Regions from separate parts of the Homo sapiens genome. Here region 1 is linked to region 2. Evidence: fine-mapped expression QTL. A gene starts in region 2. The other region holds a variant in brackets. All regions are shown on one strand. Distances are between the middles of the regions.

Region 1 (9,036 bases), 38 kb before region 2:
CCTCATATAACCTTAATTACCTCCTTAAAGGCCCTATCTCACCAGGCTTGGTAGCTTGCACCAGTAATTTCAGCTACTTGGGAGGCTGAGGCAGGAGGATCACTTGAGTCCAGGAGTTGGAGCCTGCAGTGAGCTATGACTGCATCACTTCACTCCAGCCTGGGTAACAGAGCAAGACCCTGTCTAAAAATAAAGTCCTATCTTCAAATGCAGGCACATGGAAATTTTATATATTATTTAGGGTTTTAGTGTATGATTTCTGTTTATTTATTTATTTATTTTTTGAGACCAGGTCTCACTCTGTTGCCCAAGCTGGAGTGCAGTGGCGTGATCTTGGCTCATTGCAGCCTCCACCTCCCAGGTTCAAGTGATTCCCCTGCCTCAGCCTCCCGAGTAGCTGGGATTATAGGCATGTGCTACCATGCCCGGCTAATTTTTGTATTTTTAGTAGAGATGGGGTTTCACCATGTTGGCCAGGCTGGTCTCAAGCTGCAGACCTCAAGTGATCCACCCGCCTCGGCATCCCAAAGTGCTGGGATTACAGACGTGAGCCACCGTGCCCGGCCATTGTATGATTTTTAGAGGGGGCACAATTGAGTCCATACAGATCCTGCTAGCATTACTGAGGCACCCGCTGAATGTCTCTAATGCACATAAAACATCTTATTTCATCTCTCTGAGGACGCTGTAAAGTAGCTATTGACATATACTTCAATTTACAAACTCCCTTCCTCTGTCCATATTTTAATGTTGTGAAATGGAATCATCTATTACAGTGGACAGATAAAAAAACCTGCTCAACCCAGACTTTTCCTTCTGCCTTCCCATCCCAAAGTAGGTATTAGAGGTATTAAAGGGGTGGCCCAATGTAATTGTGGTGGTATCTTAGCATGGTGGAATGGCTGCGTCATCCTGATTTTGCCAATGAGAAGCTCAGAGCTTCAAAGTGATTTGCCCAGAGCCTTCCAGCTACTAAGGGGTGGGGTTGGAACTTGAACCTGGATCAGATGCTATCCCAATCTGCTTATACTGTGTGCTTATAGTCCCAGCTACTTGGGCCGCTGAGGTGGGAGGATCATTTGAGCCCAGGAAGTTGAGGCTGCAGTGAGGTATGATTGCAGCACTGCACTCCAGCCTGAGTGACACAGTGAGACTCAGTCTCTAAAAAATATATACATAAATAATTAAAGCCATTTATTACTCAAAAAGACCAAAAAAAAAAAAAAAAAGAAACCTTGTGTCTTCCTTTTATTACCTCCTTGGGCTATGGCACACATTGATTTCCTGTTAATCTCAGCACTTTGGGAGGCTGAGAGGGGCTGATCACCTGAGGTCAGGAGTTCGAGACCAGCCTGGCCAACATGGTGAAACCCCTTCTCTACTAAAAATACAAAAAATTAGCTGGACACCGTGGCATGTGCCTGTAATCCCAGCTACTCCAGAGGCTGAGGCAGGAGAATCACTTGAACCCGGGAGGCGGGGGTTGCAGTGAGCTGAGATCATGCCACTGCACTCCAGCCTGGGGGACAGAGCGAGACTCTGTCTCAAAAACAAATAAAACACCAAACAGATGGTAAATGATTTCCCAGGGCTCTGTGTGTATCTCCTAAAGAGAAACCTGTAGGAATGCCCAGCCCCATCCCTGGCAGTGGCTCTCCCCAGCACCAAAGGGTGAGATCTGAGATCCAGGGTGCCTGCCCCTCCAGGTAGAGGAGCCAGGCATGGGGGCTGAGGAGGCTGTGGATTGCCGTCAGTGGACTCAACACCATCTGGTTGCTGCTGACATCCGCGTGGCACCAGCCATGGCACTGACACCACCACAGGGCGACGCAGATGCTGATGGCATGGATGTCAATGTGCGTGGCCCAGGTTAGTGACAGTGCCCCTCCCAAAGGGATGCCCCTCACCCATCCTACCTGTGAGAGGTTATTTCTGACTCTGTGTTTTGGGGAGAACTGGGGGAGTCTCTAAGCTTCTGTGAAGGGTGTGTGTATTCAGCAACACTCTTGGTTGGAAGTGACAAAGGTCCAACTCAGACTAGCTTAAGTAAAACAAGGGATTTATCAACTCATTTAACTAAAAGTGGCACATTTGGATCCAGGACTCAGTTTTCCCCTCTCTACCCTTTGACTCCAATCTTACAAAACCTTCTTAATGCTCCAGAAAAGTCTCAGGATGCATTCTGATTGGACAGACTAGGGTCACGTGCTCATCCTTGAGCCAATCAGTATGACCAGGGGGCTGGAATATGCAAATTGACCAAGCCTGATTCACATACCTGTCTTTGAGCTGGTGGGGGTCGGGTCTGCTGGTGGAGCGGGGAGGTCAGTCTCTACCCAGGGCTTGAGAATGGAGAACCGGATGCAAGTGGCTCCCTAAGAAAAATGAGGACAAGTGCTTGTGTACAGTGTGTGCAGTGTAGCGGACTATGTTGTTTGATCCTCTTAGATCCATCTTTGTTATGTTTCAGGGCATTCCTGCCTTAGCTTCATTTTGCTTATGCTCCAAATGGCCTGTACTTATGGCTCTCTTTTGAAGTCCCTCTGGCTGCTGGGGCCTGAAGTGCCTGGGATTTTATGTCCCTGGGGGCAGCTCTTTTTTTCCCCCCCCCTTTTAAAACACTCAAATGAATTGGCAGAAAGGGGCAGCTCCTAACCAGTGGGTGCAGGAGTATGAAGGGGATGGTTTCTTTGCCTTGAGTTGGATTAGAACTCTGGGGTACAACACATGTTCCAGAGTCCCTTTGGAGGATCAAGGTGGAATAACCCTTTGGGAATTTACTGGAGGTTGCACACTTGCTTGACTCCCAGAGTCCCTTGTCCTGTGTTCCCTGTGCCCTAGGAGTAGTTCTGTGACAAATCACGTGCCCACGAATCCTCATTCTGGGTGTGGGTGTGCAGACAGGAGGATCTGCTAATTGTCATTTTTCCATGTGTCCCATTAGCTCCTAATGGGGTACCCTTGATAACATTTCCTGGAAAAGGCCCTGTGTTTACCTTCCTGCTGACACACTCCTGTCCCTGCAGATGGCTTCACCCCGCTAATGCTGGCTTCCTTCTGTGGGGGGGCTCTGGAGCCAATGCCAACTGAAGAGGATGAGGCAGATGACACATCAGCTAGCATCATCTCCGACCTGATCTGCCAGGGGGCTCAGCTTGGGGCACGGACTGACCGTACTGGCGAGACTGCTTTGCACCTGGCTGCCCGTTATGCCCGTGCTGATGCAGCCAAGCGGCTGCTGGATGCTGGGGCAGACACCAATGCCCAGGACCACTCAGGCCGCACTCCCCTGCACACAGCTGTCACAGCCGATGCCCAGGGTGTCTTCCAGGTGAGATAGGCACACACTTTGGACCTCAGAGCTGGGGCAGGCATTAGACTTACCTGGGTTTGAGCCCCAGTTCTGCCTTTCAGACTCATTTTTTCTCATTTGGAAAATGGGGATATATGGGAATACAGTATCTGTCAAGCAGCTGCTCCCTGAACCTCACCAATTTCAGGGGTTGGGGTATGGGGGTTGGGGACTTCATGGGACTTAGGGGTGCTCCTGATTCCTCTGTTCCTGCCATGACCCCTCCTGCTGCATCCACTCTCTGTCCTAGATTCTCATCCGAAACCGCTCTACAGACTTGGATGCCCGCATGGCAGATGGCTCAACGGCACTGATCCTGGCGGCCCGCCTGGCAGTAGAGGGCATGGTGGAAGAGCTCATCGCCAGCCATGCTGATGTCAATGCTGTGGATGAGCTTGGTAGGTTGGCAGAGGAATCAAGTCTAAGCTGGGTTGGTGTCACCTGGGCCCTGAGGGTCATGTTGGTGCAAATTCATACCCATGTTGAGACCCAATCACTGAAGCTCACGCACACATAACCAGGCTTCATGAAGCCTGCAGGGTCATGCAGGGTCACCACTAGTCCTTAGGGTGCCTCAGGGATTTAGAAAAAGGTGCCTTTCCCCTAGATACTTCATTTCCACCTGCTTTGTTAGACGGACACACTGTACTTCCACCTGCTGGAAGTTATTATAATAAACGTACACATCAGGCCATGTGTGGTGGCTCATGCCTGTGATCCCAACACTTTGGGAGGCTGAGGCAGGAGGATGACTTGAGGCCAGGAGTTTGAGACCAGACTGGGCAACATAGTGGGTTCTACAAAAGTTTTTTGAAAGATTAGCCATGTGCGGTGGTGCATACCTGTGGCCCTAGCTACTCCAGAAACTGAGGTGGGAGGGTCGTTTGAGCCCAGGAGGTTGAGTCTGTGAGCCGTGATTGTGCCCCTGCACTCCAGCCTGGGGGACAGACTCCATCTCAAAAAAAAAAAACAGTCTCCAGACGTTGCCAAATGCTCTGGGGGCTGGGGGCAGGGAGTTTCTCCTAGTTGAGAGCCACAGTTCTAGGGCAGGGCTGGCCAATAGGACTTTCTGTGATGATGGAATTATTCTCTGCACTGTCCAGTATAGTAGCCACTGGCCACATATAGTGACTTGAAATGTGACTGAGGCAAATGAAGAAGTAAATGTTTTAGTTCATTTAATTTTTTTCTCCTTATGTTGCCCTTTTTTT[AAT/T]TTTTTTTTTTGAGACAGAGTCTCACTCTTGTCACCCAGGCTGGAGTGCAATGGTGTGATCTTGGCTCACTGCAACCTCCACTACCCAGGTTCCAGTGATTCTCCTGTCTCAGCCTCCCAAGTGTCTGGGACTAAAGGTGCCCATCACCATGCCTGGCTATTTTTTTGTATTTTTAGTAGAGACGGGGTTTCGCAATGTTGGCCAGGCTGGCCTCAAACTCCTGACCTCAGGTGATCCACCTGCCTTGGCCTCCCAAAGTGCTGGGGTTATAGGCATGAGCCACTGAGTCCATCCTTTTTTTTAAAAACAAAAAACAAAAAACAAAAAACTGCTTTATTGAGATATAATTAACATGCCATACAATTCACCCATTTAAAGTGTACAATTCAATGGCTCTTAGTATAATCAGAGTCATACAACTATTACCACAATCAATTTTAGAACATTTCATCACCTGAAAAATAAATTCTCACCACTTGGCCATCATCTGCCAAGCCCCTCATCTGTCCAGCCCTGTGCAACCACTGATTTGCTTTTTGTCTTCATGGATTTGCCTGTTCTGGACATTTCATATAAATGTAATCATATGATACGTGGTCTTTTTTGTCTGCCTTTTTTTCAGTTAGCATTATGTTCTCAAGGTTCACCCATGTTGTAGCATAGTTCAGCTGAATAATAATCCATTGTGTCGATGGACCACTTTTTTTTTCTTTTATTTTTAGACATAGGGTATCACTCTGTCACTCAGGCTGGAGTGCAGTGGCATGATTACGGCTCTCTGCAGCCTCAAACTCCCAGGCTCAAGTGATCCTCCCATCCCACCCTCCTGAATAGCTGGTATTACAGGTGTGTGCCAGCATACCTGGGTAATTCTTAAATTTTTTGTGGAAATGGGGTCTCACTTTGTTGCCCAGGCTGATCTCAAACTCCTGGCCTTAAGCAATACTCCCACCTTGGCCTCCCAAATTGTTGAGATTATAGGCGTGAGCCACTGTGCCTGGCCAAAAGTTTCAATTTTGATCATGTCCAATTTATCTGTTTTGTAGTTGTTATTGTTATTTGTGGTTTTGGTGTCACATCTAAGAATCTTGGCCTAATTCAAGGTCATGAAGATTTACTCTTATGTTTTCTTCTAGATGTTTAGTTCTATAGTTGGAGCTCATATATTTAGGTTTCTGATCCATTTTGAGTTAGTGTTTGTATAAAGTGTGAGGTAGGGGTCCAACTTCATTCTTTGAATGTGAATATTCAGTTGTTCCAGCACCATTAGTTGAGAAGACCATTCTTTCCCCATTGAATGGTCCTGGCACCTATTTTATTAAATTTAAATCTAAAGAACCACATGTAGGTTGGGCACGGTGGCTCATGCCTGTAATCCCAACACTTTGGGAGGCCAAGGCTGGTGGATCACTTGAGCTTAGGAGTTTGAGACCAGTTTGGGCAACATAGTGGAACTCTATCTCTATCAAAAATACAAAAAATCAGCTGGGCATGGTGGTACATGCCTGTAGTCCCAGCTACTAGGGAGGCTGAGGCAGGAAAATCGCCTGAGCCCAGCAGGTAGAGGTTGCAGTGAACTGAGATTGTGCCAATGGACTCCAGCCTGGGTGACAGAACAAGACACTACCTCAAAAATAAATAAATGGATAAATAAAAACCACATGTGACTGACTACTGTATTGGATGTCACAACCCTAGGTTCAACTGAAGGAGGTCCACACAGCACCCCCTGTGTATAAACAGTCATGCACATGCACGCACACACACACACACACACAAACACACACACACAGACACAAAGTGCTTCCCCATTGCACAGAGTCATTTTGCAGATTTGCACACACATGGATCCAGACACAAGTACTTGGATATTCACGGCAGGCCTGCCTCCTCTACCCCTAGGCCACATTCTAGACAATTTCTGCCTCCCTGACATGGGGGCCCCAGGACAGGTGCCTGGTCCTGACCTCTCTCCCCTTCATCCTCCAGGGAAATCAGCCTTACACTGGGCTGCGGCTGTGAACAACGTGGAAGCCACTTTGGCCCTGCTCAAAAATGGAGCCAATAAGGACATGCAGGATAGCAAGGTGAGCCCCAGCCCTTGGTCCACTGGGTGTCAGCAGTGGCACAGTGCCATTGCAATCCAGCCTGGGCAACAGAGTGAGACTCTCTCAAAAAACAAAACAAAATAAAACCCCAAACATTGGATTAAAATATAATTTACTTTGGTGACTAAAGTTTTTGGGGGCCCCTTAAATTTTGTGCCTAATGGCTGGGTGTGGTGGTTCATGCCTATAATCCCAGCACTTTGGGAGGTCGAGATGGGTGGATTACTTGAGTTCAGGAGTTTGAGACCAGCCTGGCCAACGTAGTAAAACCCTGTCTCTATTAAAAATACAAAAATTAGCTGGGCGTAGTGGTGCACACCTGTAGTCCCAGCTGCTCGGGAGGCTGAGGCAGGAGAATCGCTTGAACCCGGAAGGCTGAGGTTGCAGTGAACTGAAATGGCGCCACTGCACTCCAGCCTGGGCGACACAGTGAGACTCTGTCAAAAAAAAAAAAAAAAAAAGACAAGAAAAAAAAAGTTATGCCTAAGGTGAGTACCTCGCTTAACTCACCCTAGTCCTGGCCTTGACCTCTGGCACTTAGTAGGTGATGGATGAATGTGGTTTAGAGGAAAGAACTTGTCCAGGCTCCCCCAGCACAGCCGGGATTTAACCCAGGTCTGTCAAGCTCCAGTGTACAAACTCATAGCTCTCGGGCTCCCCCAAGAGGCTGGAAGACTTTGCTACTGTTAGCTGGGGTTTCGCTGACCTCTGTGGGTTCTGGCCCCCCAGGAGGAGACCCCCCTATTCCTGGCCGCCCGCGAGGGCAGCTATGAGGCTGCCAAGCTGCTGTTGGACCACTTTGCCAACCGTGAGATCACCGACCACCTGGACAGGCTGCCGCGGGACGTAGCCCAGGAGAGACTGCACCAGGACATCGTGCGCTTGCTGGATCAACCCAGTGGGCCCCGCAGCCCCCCCGGTCCCCACGGCCTGGGGCCTCTGCTCTGTCCTCCAGGGGCCTTCCTCCCTGGCCTCAAAGCGGCACAGTCGGGGTCCAAGAAGAGCAGGAGGCCCCCCGGGAAGGCGGGGCTGGGGCCGCAGGGGCCCCGGGGGCGGGGCAAGAAGCTGACGCTGGCCTGCCCGGGCCCCCTGGCTGACAGCTCGGTCACGCTGTCGCCCGTGGACTCGCTGGACTCCCCGCGGCCTTTCGGTGGGCCCCCTGCTTCCCCTGGTGGCTTCCCCCTTGAGGGGCCCTATGCAGCTGCCACTGCCACTGCAGTGTCTCTGGCACAGCTTGGTGGCCCAGGCCGGGCGGGTCTAGGGCGCCAGCCCCCTGGAGGATGTGTACTCAGCCTGGGCCTGCTGAACCCTGTGGCTGTGCCCCTCGATTGGGCCCGGCTGCCCCCACCTGCCCCTCCAGGCCCCTCGTTCCTGCTGCCACTGGCGCCGGGACCCCAGCTGCTCAACCCAGGGACCCCCGTCTCCCCGCAGGAGCGGCCCCCGCCTTACCTGGCAGTCCCAGGACATGGCGAGGAGTACCCGGCGGCTGGGGCACACAGCAGCCCCCCAAAGGCCCGCTTCCTGCGGGTTCCCAGTGAGCACCCTTACCTGACCCCATCCCCCGAATCCCCTGAGCACTGGGCCAGCCCCTCACCTCCCTCCCTCTCAGACTGGTCCGAATCCACGCCTAGCCCAGCCACTGCCACTGGGGCCATGGCCACCACCACTGGGGCACTGCCTGCCCAGCCACTTCCCTTGTCTGTTCCCAGCTCCCTTGCTCAGGCCCAGACCCAGCTGGGGCCCCAGCCGGAAGTTACCCCCAAGAGGCAAGTGTTGGCCTGAGACGCTCGTCAGTTCTTAGATCTTGGGGGCCTAAAGAGACCCCCGTCCTGCCTCCTTTCTTTCTCTGTCTCTTCCTTCCTTTTAGTCTTTTTCATCCTCTTCTCTTTCCACCAACCCTCCTGCATCCTTGCCTTGCAGCGTGACCGAGATAGGTCATCAGCCCAGGGCTTCAGTCTTCCTTTATTTATAATGGGTGGGGGCTACCACCCACCCTCTCAGTCTTGTGAAGAGTCTGGGACCTCCTTCTTCCCCACTTCTCTCTTCCCTCATTCCTTTCTCTCTCCTTCTGGCCTCTCATTTCCTTACACTCTGACATGAATGAATTATTATTATTTTTATTTTTCTTTTTTTTTTTACATTTTGTATAGAAACAAATTCATTTAAACAAACTTATTATTATTATTTTTTACAAAATATATATATGGAGATGCTCCCTCCCCCTGTGAACCCCCCAGTGCCCCCGTGGGGCTGAGTCTGTGGGCCCATTCGGCCAAGCTGGATTCTGTGTACCTAGTACACAGGCATGACTGGGATCCCGTGTACCGAGTACACGACCCAGGTATGTACCAAGTAGGCACCC
Region 2 (9,036 bases):
AGCACATTGAAAGTTGTGTAGGATGACTCCATTTTTCTTTTTAAATTTTGGGAATCTGTTCATTTATAAATTACTGACAACTCCTTTAGTAATGTTTTCGTGGTTTCTGTGGATGGTTAATTTTCCCCAGTGGTGAGAGCTTGTTGGTTTTCATTTATTTGCTTGAGTGGATGGAAATACCGGTTCCATCACTCCCTGTTAGGCATTACCTCCTACAGGTGTGGAGGCCGGTATGACTCACACCTCATGACGACGGTTGGAAGCCTACGTGATGCTGTCCTTGGCTCAAGGAGATGAAAGCCAGGATTAGGGGCCTGCATCAGTTTAGAAGGAGCTCTAAGTGCCTTAGGAGCCTTCTCGAAGGCTGTAGGAGCGTTTAGAAACACAGGGATTTCATGCCCACCGGGAAGAGTCAGGAAATCTGGGAACCAGTTTAGTACTGAACCACTTGCTGAGACTTGCAGAGATCACCCCGCTCTGTGTCTCACAAGTCATCAAAGAGAGGACTTGACATTGATGATCGCTTCCCTCTGTGACATTTCCAGACTCTATACTTACTTCGAAACTCATAAAAATAAGCATTGACAAGGATATGAGGGTGTGGTAAGCGCATTGCTTCCCCAGACTTGAAACACTTAACAGCAGCGTTTCCTGCGAGTAACATCAAAGACACCTTTGAATTGCACAGGCAGAAATTGAGTCCCTTTTCCAGTTCTCTTTCAAATCTTCTGGTTACTTCAAGGGATCACTTTGGTTTGGTGCCAGTGTGTCTTTAAACAATTCTATTTATTTATGGACGGTGTGTGTGTGCATATAATTATCTATTTATTTACACATATATGTATAAAATTATATGTACGTAATTTTAGTTTTTAAAGGATCATGCAGTAAAATTGAAATTTTTAGAGTTCAGTTCAATAAAAATTTTAACATAGGTAACCACTATCATAATTAGAATTTTAACACATGCAGCCACCATAATACAAAACAGTTCTATCACCCCCAAAACCTTCTATGCTACCCCCTTTATTCTAACACCCTTCCCTAACCCCTGGCAACACTGATCTTTCCTCCCATAGTATGGTTTTGTCACTTTTGGAGAATATCATATAAATGGATCATATTAATGGTACCTTTGAAATTGGCTTCTTTCTTTTTGTTTTGAGACGGAGTTTTGCTCTTGTTGCTCAGGCTGGAGTGCAATGGCACAATCTTGGCTCACTGCAAACTCTGTCTCCTGGGTTCAAGTGATCCTCCTGCCCCAGCCTCCTGAGTAGCTGGGATTATAGGCGCCCACCACGACACCTGGCTAATTTTTTATGTTTTTTGTAGAGACGGGGTTTCACCATGTTGGTCAGGGTGGTCTCGAACTCCTGACCTCAGGTCATCCACCCGCCTCCGCCTTCCAAAGTGCTGGGATTACAGGCATGAGCCCCACGCCCGGCCAAGATTGGCTTCTTTCAATCAGGCTACTTATTTTGAGATTCATCCAAAGTGTTGCGTGCTTCTTTGCTTTTCTGTTTTGTTGTATTTTATGTTTTTAGCAAGACAGAGGGTCTTGCTCTGTCTCCCAGACTGGAGTGCAGTTGCACAATCATGGCTCACTGCAGCCTCAAACTCCTGGGCTCAAGAGATCTTCCTGCTTCAGCCTCCAGTATCTGGGACTACAGCTGCATGCCACCATGCCTGACTACATACATATATATATATATTTTTTTTTTAGATGGAGTCTCGCTTTATTACCCAGGCTGGAGTACAATGCCACGATCTCAGCTCACTGCAACCTCTGCCTCCCGGGTTCAAGTGATTCTCCTGCCTCAGCCTCCTGAGTAGCTGGGATTACAGGCACCCACCACCATGCCCAGCTAGTTTTTTATATTTTTAGTAGAGCGGGGTTTCACCATGTTGGTCTGGCTGGTCTTGAACACCTGACCTCAGGTGATCCACCCGCCTCAGCCTCCCAAAGTGCTGGGATTACAAGCGTGAGCCACTGCACCTGGCCTGTCGTGTTTTAGTAGTTTGCCCTCTTTATTGCTGAGCAGTGTTTCATGGTATGGGTGAATCACAGTTTGTTTAACCATTCCTCTCTTAAGGGATATTTTTTTTGTTGTTTTTTGTTATTTTTTCCAGTTTTCAGCTATTGCAACTAAAGCACCTATGAATAATCATGTGCAGATTGTGTGTGGTTGCATATTGTTCAAAATCCTCTCTGGCTTTCCAATTCACTTAGAATAAAATTTGCAGTCCTCATGCAGTCTGTAAAATCATACCTGTCTGGCCTTTGTCCAGCCTTTGATAGCGTCTCCTCCCTGCCTCCTCTGCTCTCTTCCTTCTAGCTATCCTGGCTTTCCTGACTTTCTCTGCACATGCAAAGCCCATCCCATTTGTAATGAGTTGAATGACAGACCCTAAAATGTACATTCAGAACGTGCAAATGTGACCTAACTTGGAAAATGTGTTTTTGCAGAAGTAGTTAAGTGAGGGGTCTCAAGATGAGCCTATCCTGGATGAGGGTGGTCCCTAAATGCAATGACAAGTATCCTTGTAAGACGTAGAGGAGGAGGGCCGGGCCCGATGGCTCATGCCTGTAATCCCAGCACTTTGGGAGGCTGAGGCAGGCGGATTGCCTGAGGTCAGGAGTTCGAGACCACTCTGGTGAATATGGTGAAACCCCATCTCTACTAAAAATACAAAAAAATTTAGCCGGGTGTTGTGGTGTGTGCCTGTAATCCCAGCTACTCAGGAGGCTGAGGCAGGAGAATTGCCTGAACCTAGGAGGTGGAGGTTACAGCGAGCCGAGATTGCGCCACTGCACTCCAGCCTGGGCGAAAGAGTGAGACTCCGTCTCAAAAAAAAAAAAAAAAAAGATACAGAAGGAGATGCAGGCACAGGGAATAAGGCCATCTGAAGATATACGGAGAAATTGGAGTGACGCAGCCATAAGCCAAAGAATGCCTGGAGCCTCTTGAAGTTGGAGAAGGTAAGGATCCTCCCCAAAGATCTCGAGAGAGTGTATGGCCCCACTGATGCCTCCATGCTGAATTTCTGGCCTCCCGAAGTGTAAGAGAATTAATTCCTGTTGTTTCAAGCCACCCAATTTGTGGTAATGTGTTATGGCCATCAAAGGAAATTAATAAAACACCTCAGGGCCTTTGCATGTGCCATCTTCTCTACCTGGATTACTCTTTCTCCAGATCCTTGTGGGGCCCATGTCCTCACTTCCTCCTGGTCTCTCTGCTCAACTGTCACCTCCTTAGAGAGTCCTTCTGCTTGTCCTAAGAGAGGCCCTTACTGTATCCCTCTAACTCAATAATTTGTTGCACTTCTCTTTAAATTTCGATCAATTTAGATACATGGTATTTGTTTCCTCCCCTGCCCCACACCCACCCCCTTTTTTTTAGAGACAGGGTCTTGCTCTGTTGCCCCAGCTGGAGTGCAGTGGCACGATCACAGCTCACTGTAGACACAACCTCTTGGGTTCAAGCAATCCTCCCTTCTCAACCTCCCAAGCAAAAGGGATAACAAGCACGTGCCACCATACTCAGCTAATTTTTTTTCTTTTAAAAAAAATTTTTTTTAGACAGAGTCTTGCTCTGTTTCCCAGGCTGGAGTGCAATGGCGTGATCTCAGCTCACCGCAACCTCCACCTCCCGGGTTCAAGCGATTCTCCTGGCTAAGTTTGTTTGTTTGTTTGTTTTTTGGAGAGACTGGGTCTCACTTTTTGGCCCCGGTTGGTCTCAAATTCCTGGCCTCAAGCGATCCTCCTGTCTTGGCCTCCCAAAGTGCTGGGATTACACACATGGACCACCATGCCAGGCTTGTTTCCCTTTTTAAAAAAATCACTTGTCCTCTGTGTATATTTGTTTCAGGGACTGTTGAATAATCCAGCTTTCGGCTGAGAAGCTTTTTGGACATTTGCCTAGTGACAATCTTTCTTTATCTGGGGAGAGATTGGTCAGATAATTAGTCTTGGAGCATGTTAAAGCTTTGTCTCCCAAGAAAGAATTTACATCTATTACAACATCTTTCTCTCTCTCTGGAAAATTGTATCCTTGTTATTAAGACTTTTTTTTTCTTTTTTAGCTTTACAGAAAAGCTGCAAAGATAGCAAGATAATTTTTGTCTACTCTTTATCCAGCTTCCCTGAATGCTAACATCTTATATAACCATAATACATTTACTGAAACAAAAAGATTAACACTGGTTCATTACTACTAACTCAACTCCAAACTTTATTTGGATTTCACCAACTTTATCCACAAATTTGTCCTTTTTTTGATTCCTGGATCCAGTCCAGGGTACTATATTGAATTTAGTTGTCACAGCTCCTTTCCCTCCTCTAGTCTGTGGCAGTGCCTCAGTCTTTGTTTTTCATGACCTTGACAGTTTTGTAGAGGTCTGGTTAGGCATTTTGTAGAATGTGACTCAGTGTGAATTTCCTTTGCTTACTACTATACCTATTATACAAAAAATATACACATATATATATATACATGCACAAATATTTATTTATAGTGTGGAAAATATACATAACATAAAATTTACCATTTTTTAAGTATTATTATTATTTTGTGAGACATGGTCTTGCTCTGGTACGGCCCCGCTGGTGTGGAAAGCGAGCTGTGTTCGGAGGGCCTGAACCTACGGGCTTCCACCGTGGGGCCAATGGAAAGCTGCGGAAGGTGGGCCCCCAAAGGTCTGGGCTCCTGAAGCCGCTGAGGGGCGTGGCCTCCTGGTTTTAAAACATAAAATGGGTGTGAGGTCTGCAGTGCGAGCCAATGAAAGGCAAGGGGAGGCGGGGTCTATGAGGGAGGCGGCCAGTAGAGGCAAGGCTCTTTCGGGTGGCCCCGGAGCGGGGCTCCGACTGTGCGCATGCGCATCGGGCCGGACTACGGGGCGCCGCTGAGCCAAGTGGGCCACCCGGGCACGGCCACGCTCCCGGGTCACGTGACACGGAGGGGGCCGAATTCTGCTGGAGGCAGCGCCATATCCTGGAGGTGAAGGTGAATAGCGTCGGGGGTCGAGCTGGTGTGGGAGAACCACATCCTGATGCGATGTGACCTCGACCCAGCCTGGCCCGGGGTCGGGGATCAGGCTCGGGCCCGTGCGCTCTTTAAGGGAGAGGCGTGGGTTGCGTGGAGGGTCGCGCCCGCTAACCCGGGGGCGTGACCTCGTGCCTCTTGGTGACGTAACATGGGGCGGGCTCACTACTGGGGCTGAGATTTGGGGTCCGGTTGTGGAAAGAGAGGCGGGGCTTCCGCCTGTCCATTGACAAGTAGGTAAGTGGAAGATAACTGTGTGGTGCTGTCGTCGCCACCTTGACTTGTGGTGGCTAGTTTGGGTGGGAGTGGTGGTGATGTAAAGGACTGGGGCTAGCCCCGCGAGGGGCGTGACCTTGTCACGGAGAGGCATGGCTTCACCCCGAGCCTAGGCGCACAAAGGGCGTGGTCTGGCAGGGTTGGGGGCGTGGCCGCACAGAAACTGGCGGCAAGGGTCGTGGCCCTGGATCCTGCTGCGAGAAGGGGCGCGATTTCTTCCGGAGAGGTTCCCTGTCGCGCCCAAGTCTGGGAAGTGCCCTTTCTCTCTTAGGTACCACCTCATGGAGACCCCCGCGGCCGCCGCCCCCGCTGGGAGCTTATTCCCCTCCTTCCTGCTCCTGGCCTGCGGGACGCTGGTGGCCGCCTTGCTGGGCGCCGCTCACCGCCTGGGGCTCTTCTATCAGCTGCTGCACAAGGTGCGGGGCACAGAATGGGAGGTGGGCTGGGGGCAGTCAAAGAGGGAGGGGCCTCGTGGTGCTGCTTCCAGCTCACTCATTGTGCAGGGTGGGAAAGCGAGCCCCGACTAGTCCAGAGGGACTGGTAAGAGGTTCTGTCCAGGGCCCTGTCTCCATTGCCACGCTGTGTATGGAGGCCTGGACTTTGCCACTGGTAAGAGAGAACACGGAAGCTGCCGCTGCCGGGGCACTCGCACCCCACCTACCTCCTTCCCCAGTGACTCTTTTCACAGAACAGATGGACAGCACTCTGTGCTCCCTAACCTGGATGGGATAAATGGGGCAGAGGGCAGGCTCCAGCGAGGGGGTGGCAGTGACAGTTTCATAACAGTTGCCCTCTGCTGAGCTCAGTACTGTAGACTTTCTTACCTACCCCTTACCTTTTCCTTGAAAGTAGGTGCTGTTCTTTCTGTCTTCATTTTCTGCAAGAGGAAGCTGAGGCTCAGAGAGATTGTGTGGTGGTTTGCCCTAGGTGACATGTTTGGAGAGAGCTGACCCCACAGGTGTCCCCCTAAACTCCTTGCACCTCTGTTTGAAATTTACCCCTTCTCCAGACCCCTTCCTCAACCCTTTCTCTCCTAGCAGGGACCAAGCTTGACCTCTCCCTCCCCAAACCCTTCTCTACTGCTTCCTCTGCTAGCCAGGAGTGATGCCACTGACCTTCAGGACTTAGGAGATTTAAAGCAAGCCTTGGATGTGTAGGGCTGTGAGGCAGCTGGAGTTGGGAGGCCTCGGCACAGTCTGTGCCAGCAGCTCACTCCCGTGCCAGGCACATGGTGGCTGGCAGCCTGTCAACTAAGCCCTGGGCCTGTTTAGCGTCCATCAGGAGGGCATCAGGGAGGCTGGGATCAGGAGCCCAGCTGCCAGGCTCTGCAAGGATACTGGAGGGCAGGGAGGAGTCACAGCAGATGGCTCCCTGCCATCTGCTCTGCGTGCGTTGTGCCCCTGGCCAAACCCCCTGGGTTATATAACCCTCTCCTCTCTCCCTGATTGCCCTGCCATCCTGGAGACAGGCAGTGTAACAGTGGGGCACTTAAGAGCGTGGGTTCTATTGAACTTTCAGTCTTACTTGGGCAAGCCTTGATGTCCTCAGCTGTAAGAGGGATGTAATGACAAGAGGATCTGATAAGATGTTATGCCTTGGTTTGAGCCTGGCATGTAGTATAATATATGCCTAACCAAGACCAAGCTTCTCTTGACCTCTCACCCTGCTCCTGCCCCCTTACCTGGGGCAGGGGGATTGCCCCCTTTCCCAGCTGCCCTCTGCCCTGGCCTTTAACTTTATTGCTCCACCTGTCCTTGGGCCCAGGTGGACAAGGCAAGCGTCCGGCATGGCGGAGAGAACGTGGCCGCTGTGCTGAGGGCCCATGGTGTGCGGTTCATCTTCACGCTGGTCGGTGGGCACATTTCCCCGCTGCTGGTGGCCTGTGAGAAACTGGGCATCCGTGTGGTGGACACACGCCATGAGGTCACGGCCGTCTTTGCTGCTGATGCTATGGCCCGCCTGTCCGGTGAGGGCATTGCAGAGAGGGCTGGGGACTGGTTGGACTGTGGGCTAGAGTGTCTGTGAGGGTAGGGGTTTTTCAGAGGTGGAAGAATGGCCAAGAGAGTGGGCATGGCTGTGATGGGCTCTGTGTTCCAGGGACGGTGGGCGTGGCGGCAGTGACAGCAGGCCCTGGCCTCACCAACACGGTGACTGCGGTGAAGAATGCTCAGATGGCTCAGTCCCCAATCCTGCTTCTGGGTGGGGCTGCCAGCACTCTGCTGCAGGTACCCAGTCCTTGGGGGCCAGTGGGGGCCTAGGGGGGCTTGAAGGGCTCATGCGATAACCCTGCCACACCTCTGTCTTTGCCAGAACCGGGGTGCGCTCCAGGCTGTTGATCAGCTGTCCCTTTTCCGGCCACTCTGTAAGTTTTGTGTGTCTGTGCGGAGGGTGCGGGACATTGTGCCCACCCTGAGGGCCGCGATGGCTGCCGCCCAGTCGGGCACCCCAGGTAGGTGGAGGATGGTGATGCTGAGCAGTGCTGGGGCCGAGGGGCTGGGGACATGTTATGGACTCAGCGTCCTCCCTGTCCCTGCAGGTCCGGTGTTTGTGGAGCTGCCCGTTGACGTGCTGTACCCCTACTTCATGGTCCAGAAGGAGATGGTGCCAGCCAAGCCACCCAAGGGCCTCGTGGGCCGAGTGGTCTCCTGGTGAATAGCCCCACCCCTGCCATTCCCTCCTTTATCCCCCGTTCTCTCCTGCAGCTTCCAGCCCACACCCATCCTCCTTTGATTCACATGTGGACTGGGAGGAGACAGCTGGGGGGAGAGCATTCCAGGTAGAAGGAACAGCATGTGCAAAGGTCCTGAGGCAGGAATGAACTGGGTGGGTAGGGAAAGCAAGGCGGCCCTCGTGGAGGCAGCAAAGGGGAGAGGCTCAGGACAGCCCTCCTCCTCCTCCTTTTCCCTTTCTTCTCCTCCTCCATCATCTCTTCTTCCTCCTCTTCCTCCTCCCTCTTCCTTCCTCTTCTCCTCCCTTTCCCCCACCACCTTTCCCATCGTCCTCTCCGTTTTCCTCCTCCTAAAGGATGATCCTTGAACCTCGGAAGGGAGGTTCATTCTTACATTTACAGAGGAGGAAGCTCAGAAAGGTGAAGTCACTTGCCCAAAGTCACACAGCTAAGAAGTGGCAGAGCCCAGGCCGGGTGCGGTGGCTCTCACTTGTAATCCCAGCACATTGGGAGGCCGAGGTGGGCAGATCACGAGGTCAGGAGATCGAGACCATCCTGGCTAACATGGTGAAACCCCATCTCTACTAAAAATACAAAAAAAAAAAAAATTAGCCGGGCGTGGTGGCGGGCGCCTGTAGTCCCAGCTACTTGGGAGGCTGCGGCAGGAGAATGGCGTGAACCCAGGAGGTGGAGCTTGCAGTGAGCCAAGATCGTGCTACTGCACTCCAGCCTGGGTGACAGAGCAAGACTCCGTCTCAAAAAAAAAAAAAAAAGTGGCAGAGCCCAGACTCGAGCCCTCTCCTTCCTCCTCCTTTCCTTCCCTCACATCTTTGTCCTTTTCTTTCTTTTTTTTTTTTTTTGAAACAGATTCTTCGTTCTGTTGCCTAGGCTTGAGTGCAGTGGCGTGATCTCGGCTCACTGCAACCTCCGCCTCCCCCTGGGTTCAAGTGATTTTCCTGCCTCAGCCTTCTGAGTAGCTGGGACTACAGGCGCCCGCCACCACACCTGGCTAATACTTGTATTTTTAGTAGAGACGAGGTTTCATCATGT

Which allele goes with the higher level. Positions count from the first base shown, and alleles are read on the strand shown. Sizes are in standard deviations (SD) of each study's normalised expression.
In carriers of allele T in region 1, the expression in monocytes of the gene that starts at base 4,873 in region 2 tends to be lower than with AAT alone (small effect, 0.32 SD a copy in CEDAR).

What was found.
Region 1: its variant is fine-mapped to the expression of HACL2 in monocytes (CEDAR, PIP 0.95).

What each region holds. Positions count from the first base shown.
Region 1 is chr19:15,160,082-15,169,117 of GRCh38, reverse strand. It overlaps NOTCH3 (notch receptor 3), which reads left to right. Exons shown (of 33, transcript NM_000435.3): 29 at 1,707-1,869; 30 at 3,027-3,331; 31 at 3,603-3,750; 32 at 6,556-6,653; 33 at 7,404-9,036. The coding sequence ends at 8,456. Among named protein-coding and RNA genes, the nearest start is that of MIR6795, 15 kb to the left of the region's middle. The variant AAT/T (reference allele first, on the strand shown) is at 4,564.
Region 2 is chr19:15,121,623-15,130,658 of GRCh38, reverse strand. It overlaps HACL2 (2-hydroxyacyl-CoA lyase 2), which reads left to right and starts at 4,873. Exons shown (of 16, transcript NM_006844.5): 1 at 4,873-5,003; 2 at 5,590-5,734; 3 at 7,083-7,284; 4 at 7,416-7,543; 5 at 7,629-7,767; 6 at 7,855-7,966. The coding sequence starts at 5,600. It overlaps ILVBL-AS1 (ILVBL antisense RNA 1), which reads right to left and starts at 6,499. Exons shown (of 3, transcript NR_186314.1): 1 at 6,434-6,499; 2 at 6,154-6,195; 3 at 4,485-4,732. RefSeq lists silencers at 4,730-4,799, 5,370-5,419 and enhancers at 5,020-5,109, 4,604-5,367, 5,368-6,133.